Linked DNA regions of Homo sapiens: all the other regions are reported to be linked to region 3. Evidence: microRNA targets listed by miRTarBase, many of them from high-throughput screens and not tested one by one. Region 3 holds a microRNA gene; each other region holds the end of a gene's coding sequence.

Region 1 (4,346 bases), not on the chromosome of region 3:
CAGACAGAGGTGGTGCTCCTTAGGGGATCAGCCTTGAGTGCAGTGGCCCTGAACATTCACATGAATGGGCCAGATGACAAAAAAGAGAACATATTCAAAGTCAGCATTCATGTTAAGGGGTGGGGGCAGGTGTAGATAAATAACCAGCCAGAAAAGCAACCTTGGCAATTACATAAGTGATCAACACAAACAGGCAGACTTGTCTAGAAGAGATTTCATGTTTAGAAACAATAATGCACACAATCAGCAATGTAGCATTAATAAGAACGTGACATTGGGATGAAGAAATGCAACTTGTAGGAATTCCATAGTTCTAAACCTGCATTAACTGTATCCCTTTCCAAACTCCACAGCTAAAGATGGGAGGGAGAATATGGACAACATTCAAGGAAGAGCCACAGAAGTGATTGAACTGGGCTGGGACATGGGAATGAAAGACTTCTACAAAAAAGTTAAATGAATTAGTTTATTGAACTTGGAGATGGACACCCTTATAAGGGCAATAACAAACAAAAATAGAAATAGGTTTAAGTTATAACACACAAGAATAAAATTAGATGTAAAGACGACTTTCCTCAGTTTTAAGGTGGATAAGTGGGTTGTTAAATTATAACAGATTTCTCTAGGAGGGTCTGGTGTACTCCAGGCTCGCTGGGAGGCAGACCTGGATAATCTCTGAGTATATCTGTCCCCACCTGGCATTGTTGAGACCCTTCAGAGTACTTCTTTAGGTCCATGATTGAAAATTAAGAGGCAGCCAGTGCCTCCATTGTTATAAGGGCCATAAGGTTTGGTTATCTTTGATAAAGAGAAATGGAAACATATAACAGAGCTCTTCCTCAAGTCCTGCATTGGGAACATTAGCACACACCAGGACCTTTCCTATATGTAGACACAGTGCAGATTTGATCTGTGGTGCAGCCAAACTAAAACACAGGTCATGGCATTGTTTCCCCACTTTTGGTACAAACAAGCCCTTAATCAAGTCTCTAATCTAGGGACAGTAACATCGGCTATTTGAGTGCAGGCACCCTAGGTTGTTAATGTCTGTTTCCCAACACTATTCCATTCCAATATTTTTCTTTACCTAAAGTGGGATAATGATCATAAAAAAAAACACAATAATTTTCCTTACAACACTGCTGATAACTAATAATCACACAATTGCATGTAAGTTAATTCTTTAAATTTAATCAGTCATTTATAAAACTCCCCAATTAGTAAAAGTTGGCTTATTTTAACAGCCTTAAACATTGGCCACTATTTAAACAAGACATTCTAAAAAAAAAAGCAATCACATAATAGTTTATAGTCATTTACAAGTGGATGGTATACATTTAGATACAGAGGTAGAAGTTCACCTTTACAATGTTTCACTAATACACATATACCAAATTCAAGGCACAAAATAGTTTGCTTTACAAAAAAATACTGTAAAAATGTCATTTGCTGTTCTACAATGTGAATAAACCTTTCAAAAGAATCTTTACACCCTTCCATACATATGCCATAGAATAAGATTTCTTCCTCTCACTAATCATAGTTGGCACAAAAATGGGGACTTTTCAATGTAGAAGTTCCCATTTTTAAAAACTGTTCCTTTGCAGAGCTGCTATGTATTCTAGATAAGAGTCCATCCAAAGAAATGAAACACAGCAACTTCCTGAGGAAAGGGCACTTTCTGTATGCAGCAAAATTCATAGGTAGAAAATGTATGATCTTTTAGGATAATTAGGTCTCCAGACACTTAATGAAGTATATCAGAGATAAAATTAAAAATTCAAGGCTGGGTGCAGTGGCTCATGCCTGTAATCCCAGCACTTTGGGAGGCCGAGGCAGGTGGATCACAATGTCAAGAGATGGAGACCATCCTGACCAACATGGTGAAACCCCGTCTCTACTAAAAATACAAAAATTAGCTGGGCGTGGTGGCGCATGCCTGTAGTCCCAGCTACTTGGGAGGCTGAGACAGCAGAATCACTTGAAACTGGGAGGCAGAGATTGCAGTGAGCCGTGATTGTGCTACTGCACTCCAGCCTGGTGACAGAGCGAGACTCCATCAAAAAAAAAAAAAAAAAAATTCAACTAATACTTTAGTCATTGTGACTTTAAGAAAGAGACTTGGTCACCTTTACTGTAACACTCAGACATCATTTACTTCAGTTGATGGAGATTTCAAAATTCCTTTTCAAAAGAGCTAAACATACAAACACCATGAAAAAGTCACCTAGGCCTTGCAAAACGGAAACTTAGAAAACGTGAGAAAATACAGCACTATCAGTCCTTGAAATTGCGAAGATGTCAACTGGCTAGAGTTTAATAACAAGAATGAGTAAACTCTGGGAATTCTGAAAAATCACACACATGAAACATACAGTCTAGTTATCATTTCTAGACTTCCTGCTCATTAAAAAATAATGGTAACCTGAAGATGTCACACTGCTTCTCTACAGATTTGACTGGTTTCTGGGTTCTGCCTAAAAGGACCCTGTTGGCAACAACCTAAGTTCACTTGTACTGATCACATTTTCCAAGTACTCTAGTCGGTTAATTTACACTTTATTTTTTTAAAAAGTTGATTTAAAAAAGAAACAACACAAGTTTAGAATCCATAAAATGTCAGCAATGCTGATGTGCACTGGACTGAAACATCTTGATCATCTTCTGATAGAAGTAATATTCCATACAAAAAGATTCTTAGATTCCATTTTTTGCTTCATTATTGTTTGTGGCTTGCTTTCTTTGAGCAATAAAGGGGTACATACACTTGTCCGCTCCTAGGAACCGATACATGCACACAACTGCTTCAAATGGTAGGATGCTGAAAAAGGGAAGTCACAGCTGTTAGCAAACTTGAAGTTTCAATTAAGACATCGGGCAGGCATGGAGAGACCCAGTCAGTGAGGGAACCCCTCCCAGTTACCTCTTCATGAAGGTCACGATGTACATGAGGCGGGGAGTGCAGATCATGGGCTGGTCAGTGAGGATGGCCTTCATGGCCTGCTTCACACAGTAATCAGGCTTCAGAGGTGGCAGAAAAGGCTCAATTTCTTTCCTGAAAGTTATTTATTCAAAAACAAAATGAAAAATTAACACAATAGAAAAGACTGGAAATACATATCAAAACATTAACAGTGATGTTATCTGAGTGATGGGATTTTGGGTACATTTTGTTTTCTTCATAGTGCTTTTCTGTATTTTCCAAATTTTCCTGCTATGAACACATTTTATTGGCACAGTCTGGAGAACAAGTTGGGAAAAAAAAGCAAAATTGGTCTGCTTTTCCATAAGATGAAAAAGTCATGTTTTTAAGATGCCTTAAAAGTATTTCAAATTATTTTCCTATGTTTTGCTTTCAATAGAAAGAGGAGAAGGTGTTTGGCATAGCAAACACTAATCTCAAGCAAGATGCCAAGCTTTTAGTATTAGTTGTAGTCAAAATGAGGGTGTAAGCTTTCAAAGTGAAAGGAAGGCCACAGGTATCCACTTTCCAGGATGCCGGAAGAGGGAAAGCTAAGGTATATTCTCTAGGGGCCCCTGAAATGAAGGGTATATAGACATCCTACCTTCAGTTTGATTCACTGGGTTACATGTTGAAATGATAGTGTGCAATTTATTCCTTTCATTCTTCATTTTGCCACCATAGCTTTGGACCCCTGCACCTGCTGCTATGCTACACTGGAGGAAACAGAGCTCCGCAAGACCCTCAGCAACTGCTTCCCAAGTACATAAGAGGAAAACAAAACAAAACAAACCACCAACACACACACATGTTCACACAGACACACACATGTGTGGGATAAGAGGCAGAGCTAGAGTCCATTTTCCAGGTCAGACTTGGGACTCCAAGCCTGACTTTGGAGTGATTCAAATCACCTTCCACCTATTTTGCTGCTTGTTCAGTTCAGTACACGTTAAGAATGGCCCCCAACCAACAGGGAACTGGTTTGGTTATCTTCCTTTGCCTTTCAAACTCACCCAAGCAAAGATAAAAGTAAGCATGTCTTCACAAGCATCCTCTTAATGATTCACAGTTTTGTTTATTCTGCTGAGCTCAAGTCAGATGTAACTTGACATTTATATTCCCATATACCTCCTTTCTATGTGTGTGGGTATTTTATTTCATTTTTCAGTATATCTAAATGGTTCTTCTCATTCTGCCAGAGTGAATCTAGTTACATACGCTTGCTGCAAAAAGGAAGTTTCCAAATCTGGAGTGTAATATTCAATGGTCTTTTCAGAAGAAAGGCACGTTACTCTCTGTGACAGTAACATTGCTTCATATCCAGACCCAAGTCACATGAAGGAATTTTCTTCTAGAATCCTTATTTACCAATACCAATTTT
Region 2 (4,346 bases), not on the chromosome of region 3:
CACTTGAAACCAGGAGTTTGAGACCATCTTGGGCAACATAGCAAGGCCTCATCTCTACTAAAAATTAAAAATTAGCTAGGTGTGGTGGCATGAGCTTATAGTTCCAGCTACTTGGGAGGCTGAGACTGGAGGATTGTGTGAGCCCAGGAGTTAGAGGCTGCAGTGAGCTGTGATCATGCCATTGCACTCCAGCCTGGGCGACAGAGCAAGACTCTGCCTCAAAAAAAAAAAAAGAAAGAAATCACAGTCCACTAGAAGAAATGGGGAAAATTAAAATAAATAAATAATGTTTAAAAATTAAGTGTCCAGAATAATAGGCAACTCTATTGAGACAGAAAGTAGATGAGTGGTTGCTGGGTCCAGGATGGTATAGAATGGGGGTGGGAAGGAACTACTAATGGGCATAGGGTTTTTTGGGGGGTGATGAGAGTATTTTAAACTTAATGTTGATGGCTGCCCAACTTTCTGAATATACTAAAAACCATTGAATTGTACACTTCATGGCATGTGAGTTAAAACCCAGCAAAGCTATTAGGAGTGCAATGGCACCATCTTGGCTCACTGCAACCTTGACCTCCCGGGTTCAAGCAATTCTCCTGCCTCAGCCTCCTGAGTAGCTGGGATTATAGGTGCTTGTCACCATGCCTGGCTAATTTCTGTATTTTTAGTAGAGACGGGGTTTCACCATGTTCGCCAGGCTGGTCTTGAACTCCTGACTTCAGGTGGTCGACCTGCTTCAGCCTCCCAAAGTGCTGGGATTACAGGCGTGAGCCACCATGCTCAGCCAAAGCTGTTATTTTTTTAAGTATGTATTCCTAGATGTTTTATACTTTTATAGTTATTGTGAATGGAATGATTTTTTTCCTAGATAACTTTTAATGAATAGAAACAGTTCCTGCTTTATCTCCAAATTCTAGAACAGTCACTGGCACACAAGTGCTCAGTGTTTAAGTGACATTGTTTTCCTGCACCCAAAAGTAGAATGCTGCTCCTCATTGGAAGCATGTTACTTTAGCAAAGTGCCACTAAAATGACCATAGTCCATGTGCTCTGATCACTTGTCACAGATGGTGATAAAATTCATTCACAGCTTCCTTTCTAGGCCTGCAGCATTTGGGAGACAAAACTCTGCTAAACCTTTGGAAGAAAAAAGAGACCAGAGGCCATTGGTCCCGAAAAGTGGATGGAAGATAGGGAGGTAGAAGGAATGTTACAGGCTGAGAGGGCAGCTCACACTCAGCTCCAGCCACTTCACCTCGTGCACACACTGGCTGAGGGTTGCCAGATGTTTGAGAAAAGCTAGAAATCCAGACCATTGTTAACCATTGGCAACTATAGGGAACATACAGAAAGCATCTGAACTGGATGTGGTAGAGCTCCCAGATCATGATCTGATTGAGAATGTCCATGAACTTCTGTCCTGATTGCTCAGTGCAGACTGCTGCTTCTTCTGGCAAGACTCCTCTCTTCACATTGACCTGGAGTTGTCACAAAATCTGTTTTTCTCTTGCTACTCCCCTGAGCATGGCACCTTCTGCCAGAGCGCTCCCTTAACTGTGTGGGCAGGCTCTGCTTCACAGCTCCCCGCCCACTCTGCCCAAGCAGAAGTGAGCCCCTCCTGGGCAGAAAGTGCCCGCAATGAGGGCTGAAATGTTTCTATTCCCTGAGTAACCAACCTTTCTCTGTTTCCTTGTCCAGGAAACGGAGGTGGAGCTGTACAACGAATTTCCTGAACCTATCAAACTGGACAAGAATGACCGGGCCAAGGCCTCGGCAGAAAGCTGCAGTTGCTGAGGGGGCAGTGAGAGTTGAGCACAGAGTCCTTCACAAACCAAGAACACACGTAGGCCTTCAACACAATTCCCCTCTCCTCTTCCAAACAAAACATACATTGATCTCTCACATCCAGCTGCCAAAAGAAAACCCCATCAAACACAGTTACACCCCACATATCTCTCACACACACACACACACGCACACACACACACACAGATCTGACGTAATCAAACTCCAGCCCTTGCCCGTGATGGCTCCTTGGGGTCTGCCTGCCCACCCACATGAGCCCGCGAGTATGGCAGCAGGACAAGCCAGCGGTGGAAGTCATTCTGATATGGAGTTGGCATTGGAAGCTTATTCTTTTTGTTCACTGGAGAGAGAGAGAACTGTTTACAGTTAATCTGTGTCTAATTATCTGATTTTTTTTATTGGTCTTGTGGTCTTTTTACCCCCCCTTTCCCCTCCCTCCTTGAAGGCTACCCCTTGGGAAGGCTGGTGCCCCATGCCCCATTACAGGCTCACACCCAGTCTGATCAGGCTGAGTTTTGTATGTATCTATCTGTTAATGCTTGTTACTTTTAACTAATCAGATCTTTTTACAGTATCCATTTATTATGTAATGCTTCTTAGAAAAGAATCTTATAGTACATGTTAATATATGCAACCAATTAAAATGTATAAATTAGTGTAAGAAATTCTTGGATTATGTGTTTAAGTCCTGTAATGCAGGCCTGTAAGGTGGAGGGTTGAACCCTGTTTGGATTGCAGAGTGTTACTCAGAATTGGGAAATCCAGCTAGCGGCAGTATTCTGTACAGTAGACACAAGAATTATGTACGCCTTTTATCAAAGACTTAAGAGCCAAAAAGCTTTTCATCTCTCCAGGGGGAAAACTGTCTAGTTCCCTTCTGTGTCTAAATTTTCCAAAACGTTGATTTGCATAATACAGTGGTATGTGCAATGGATAAATTGCCGTTATTTCAAAAATTAAAATTCTCATTTTCTTTCTTTTTTTTCCCCCCTGCTCCACACTTCAAAACTCCCGTTAGATCAGCATTCTACTACAAGAGTGAAAGGAAAACCCTAACAGATCTGTCCTAGTGATTTTACCTTTGTTCTAGAAGGCGCTCCTTTCAGGGTTGTGGTATTCTTAGGTTAGCGGAGCTTTTTCCTCTTTTCCCCACCCATCTCCCCAATATTGCCCATTATTAATTAACCTCTTTCTTTGGTTGGAACCCTGGCAGTTCTGCTCCCTTCCTAGGATCTGCCCCTGCATTGTAGCTTGCTTAACGGAGCACTTCTCCTTTTTCCAAAGGTCTACATTCTAGGGTGTGGGCTGAGTTCTTCTGTAAAGAGATGAACGCAATGCCAATAAAATTGAACAAGAACAATGATCATCTGCCTTTGCCAGAGTCTTTTTTTCCTTCTTCAAGAGCCTTGGCTCAGTAGAGACCACATGAGCTAATCATAGTCAATGCCTTATCAAGCAAGAGAGCCCTCCATAAATGGGCACGTGTGGTGCTTCAAGGCAGAAAGGCCCTCTCATATCTGGTCCTGTAGTGCCTGTCCCTAGTTTTTTTTTGTTTGTTTTTTTTTCCGGGGGCGGGGGTGGGTGTATTTTAATCACATTGTTGGAGGTTGAGGACCATGGATGGAGAACGCATTGTCCCTTTAGGAGAGCAGCCAGAAACTGCTGGGGACTCTGAGCCATGCATATCCTGTAGGTGTAACTGTAACCTAGTCATGTGTTATGTGTTTTATTTTTAGTTGACCTAGTTGCTAACACTTAGATGTGTAATTCTGCATTTGTCACAGGAGAGGAAGATTTGGCAGCAGAGGCCCTGTATTCCAACATATGTAAGCCCCCACCTGGAATGGAATAGTTGCCACTTAGAAGCAATTTTATTAAAATAGTAGTAGTTCAGGTCGTGAGTCACTTTAGGTTTTGCAGAAGTGCCTCATTGAGTTAGATCTTGAATTCTACTTTGCTACACTTTTCTACATTTCCACTTCTCAGGCTCCTCAGCTGGTTTCTTTCCTCGTGGCTCCTCTTGGCATGTACTTTATGTGTTAAAAATAGCATAGTTTAGAAGTTCAGATGCTGCACAATGTGAGATTATCCACAGTGCAATTCCACCCTGGCTGGGTGGCTTAAATCTTCTCTGGTCCTATATTTTGCTTGGGCCTCATCAGGTGTTTGTCCTCTAGAGGAGCAGAGTTCTCTCCAGCTTGGGGCCCAGTGACTGGGCCACAGGGTGTGGACCCTTGTGTGATGCTCACCTCTGCAAATCAGGCATCTATTCCTCTGATTGTGTTCCACTGGTCTTGACCTTGTATGTGACATTAAAATGGACCTTGACTTCTGACCTGCTTGACCTTCATCCTAAAACTGATGATCATCCTGATATTAACCTGCTTTAGCTTGAGATGAATGTAATCTTTAATTGACTGATTTCAACCATTGTCCTTATCATAACTTACCCTAATTTTAATGGCTTTGGCTTTGAACTGGCTTTGACTTTACCCTAAACACGTTCACTGCTGAATGACCTTGACTCTGACCCACCTCCT
Region 3 (3,000 bases):
CCCAGCTACTTGGGAGGTTGAGGCACAAGAATTGCTTGGACCCAGGAGACGCAGGTTGCAGTGAGCCAAGATTGCACTGCAGCCTGGGTGACAGAGTGAGACTCTGTCACAAAAAAATAAAGATATAACAGGATTGGCTGGGCGCGGTGGCTCACGCCTGTAATCCCAGCACTTTGGGAGGCTGAGGCAGGCGGATCATAAGGTCAGGAGATCGAGACCATCCTGGCTAACAGGGTGAAACCCTGTCTCTACTAAAAATACAAAAAATAAGCTGGGCGTGGTGGCAGGCGCCTGTAGTCCCAGCTACTTGGGAGACTGAGGCAGGAGAATGGCATAAACCCGGGAGGCGGAGGTTGCAGTGAGCTGAGATTGCACCACTGCACTCCAACCTGGGCGACAGTGAGACTGTCTCAAAAAAAAAAAAGCAAAAACAAAAAAGATATAACAGGATTATTCTGCCAAGGTTAAGGAAATAAATAAATAAGCTAAAACAGGAGAAAAGACATCAATGGAAGAGGCAAGATACTAGAAATAAGTTGAATAAGAATCTCATAACCAGCCTGGGCCACATGGTGGAACCCTATCTCTAAAAAAATTACAAAACTTAGCCAAGCATGGTGTCAACGTGCCTGTCGTCCTAGCTACTTGGGAGGCTGAGGCAGGATAATTACTTGAACCCGGGAGGCGGAGGTTGCAGTGAGCTGAAATTGAGCCACTGTACTCCAGCCTGGGTGACAGAGCAAGACTCTTTTTCAAAAAAGTCTGGGGGTGGCCCCGCCCTGTGAGAGATGTTTTTCCAGCAGTCACTGTGGGTTCTGGGTTGGGGTGATACACAAGCCTGACCCTCCCCAACCCCTGCCCGCAGACGAAGGCCTTCATCCACCACGAGCTGCTGGCCTACCTATACTCCTCGGCAGACCAGAGCAGCCTCATGGAGGAGTCGGCTGACCAGGCACAGCGGCGGGACGACATGCTGCGCATGTACCATGCCCTCAAGGAGGCGCTCAACATCATCGGTGACATCAGCACCAGCACTGTGTCCACGCCTGTACCCCCGCCTGTCGATGACACCTGGCTCCAGAGCGCCAGCAGCCACAGGTCCGGAAGCCTGGTTCCCCTACCCTCAAGCATTCGGCCTGCAGGTTCCTGCCCTCCCTGTGTGTCCTGCAGGGTCCTGGCAGGAAACAGGACACAGCCCAAGGGTGGCACCCAGGGCTGGGCACTGTGGGAGCTGCTGCCCTGCTGAGGCCGGAGGAGGGAGAGAAGGGGTATGGGGGCGAGCCAGCCCTACAGCTCTAGGGCAGGACCCTGTGAATAAATACCCCGCCTGCCCTCTGCTGGTGCCTTCCATTGGCACAGCCCAAATGGAAGCTGGGGTAAGAGGCTGGAGGGGCAGCAGCCACAGGAGAGAGATGAGCCTCCTGGAGCACAGAGAAGGGCAGATGGGAGGCTCTGGAGGGGCAAACGCAAGGCGTGGCCAGAGCTGCTGCCGCCCCTGAGTTGTCCATTGAGGCCGTCGGGCAGGGAACCTCAGAGGGGGCTGCCTTGCAGAGCCCTGGGGGAGCCATGGAGTTCCTTAAGGGGAGGATATCGCACCCAGGCCTGCAGGTGGCAGGGACTGAGGCCCAGGAGGGAATCTGGATGTCTGGACAGGGCTTGCAGGTTCCACGGCCCCTAGAGATATTAGGGCTTGATCTGGAGGACTCTGGAAGTGTCTTTGGCTGTGAGGGTGGATCCCAGGCCCAAGGCCTGAGGGGGCCCTGTGAGTGGGAAGTGCCTGAGGGGGCCGAGGGCAAGGGAAGGTGGGACTGGCGCTCAGGTTGGGGTGGGAGGATCCCACTGCGCCTGCGCTGTCCCCATAGCCAGCCCCCACCTCAGGTTCTGGCAGCCACAGTGGCATGGCGGGGGCTCCTACTCCATCTGTATCTGTAGCTCACACCCTCTCCTTCCTCACAGCCCCACTCCACAGCGCCGACCGGTGTCCAGCATACACCCCCCTGGCCGGCCCCCAGCAGTGAGGGGCCCCACTCCAGGGCCCCCCCTGATTCCTGTTCCCGTGGGGGCAGCAGCCTCCTTCTCGGCGCCCCCAATCCCATCCCGGCCTGGACCCCAGAGCGTGTTTGCCAACAGTGACCTCTTCCCAGCCCCGCCTCAGATCCCATCTCGGCCAGTTCGGATCCCCCCAGGGATTCCCCCAGGAGTGCCCAGGTAAGGCCAACCCCCTGCCCTCCACCCCAACTGCCTGCACCCTGGGGTCTCTCCTCCTGTCTCACTTCCTCCCAGTGAGCTCTCACTACGTGCCCAGCTGCTGGAGTGGAGGAATCGTCCTCATCCCTATTTGGCTTGCGAGGAAACAGGCCCAGAGAGGCCAAGAGGCTTGTTCAGTGTCACAGAGTAGCGGAGCCCTGGTGACTCCGGGGCTCCCAGCTTGCCCTCTGCCTACTGGGGTGTGCCACCAGGCAGCTGGGGAACCCTCACACTGGGCACCTCCTCCCACTGTTTACCTTCTTCTCCTTCCTGCTCCTGCCTGCCTCAACCTACCGTGGGCCAGGCTTTATTCTCCCCACTTCTCCGGTGGGGAAGCTGAGGCCCAGGGAGGGCAGGGGGCTCACTGAGGGTCAAACAGCAGGCGAGTTGATGCCTAGGTTTGGCACTCCTGCCCGACACCCTGGTGGCTTGCGGAGGTCAGCCTGGGAACACCCTGGGGTGGTGTGTGGGTGGGGGCTGGGTCCTCAACCCAGGCCTGCCTCTTGCTCCCGGCCTCACTGCCGTCTCCCCCTCCCCACCTGTCTTTATTCTCTTTGCAGCAGAAGACCCCCTGCTGCGCCCAGCCGGCCCACCATTATCCGCCCAGCCGAGCCATCCCTGCTCGACTAGGCCTCGAGGGGGGCGTGCTCTCGGGGGGGCCTCACGCACCCGCGGCGCAGGAGCTTCAGTGGTCTGGGGCCCTCCGCCGCCCCTATGCTGGGACCAGGCTCCCAGTGGGCAGCCCTGGCCTCT

What was found. The annotated mature microRNA hsa-miR-6793-5p reads UGUGGGUUCUGGGUUGGGGUGA and lies in region 3 at 808-829, shown strand. An mRNA with a match to its seed (bases 2 to 7 or 8) in the 3' UTR can be bound and repressed. Matches are read on the target gene's strand: a 7mer-m8 pairs with bases 2 to 8, a 7mer-A1 pairs with bases 2 to 7 and ends in A, and an 8mer does both.
Region 1: the mRNA of RDH10 is a reported target of hsa-miR-6793-5p. Seed matches in the 3' UTR shown: 7mer-m8 at 595-601.
Region 2: the mRNA of RAB7A is a reported target of hsa-miR-6793-5p. Seed matches in the 3' UTR shown: 7mer-A1 at 2,052-2,058.

What each region holds. Positions count from the first base shown.
Region 1 is chr8:73,321,388-73,325,733 of GRCh38, reverse strand. It overlaps RDH10 (retinol dehydrogenase 10), which reads right to left. Exons shown (of 6, transcript NM_172037.5): 5 at 2,924-3,055; 6 at 453-2,821. The coding sequence ends at 2,698. It overlaps RDH10-AS1 (RDH10 antisense RNA 1), which reads left to right. Exons shown (of 6, transcript NR_125388.1): 4 at 3,647-3,994. Among named protein-coding and RNA genes, the nearest start is that of RDH10, 29 kb to the right of the region's middle.
Region 2 is chr3:128,811,629-128,815,974 of GRCh38, forward strand. RAB7A (RAB7A, member RAS oncogene family) reads left to right here. Exons shown (of 6, transcript NM_004637.6): 6 at 1,699-3,170. The coding sequence ends at 1,794. Among named protein-coding and RNA genes, the nearest start is that of MIR12124, 33 kb to the right of the region's middle. RefSeq lists an enhancer at 1,518-1,812.
Region 3 is chr19:10,828,171-10,831,170 of GRCh38, forward strand. It overlaps MIR6793 (microRNA 6793), which reads left to right and starts at 803; the gene lies at 803-865. DNM2 (dynamin 2) reads left to right here. Exons shown (of 21, transcript NM_001005361.3): 19 at 866-1,098; 20 at 1,957-2,208; 21 at 2,808-3,000. The coding sequence ends at 2,877.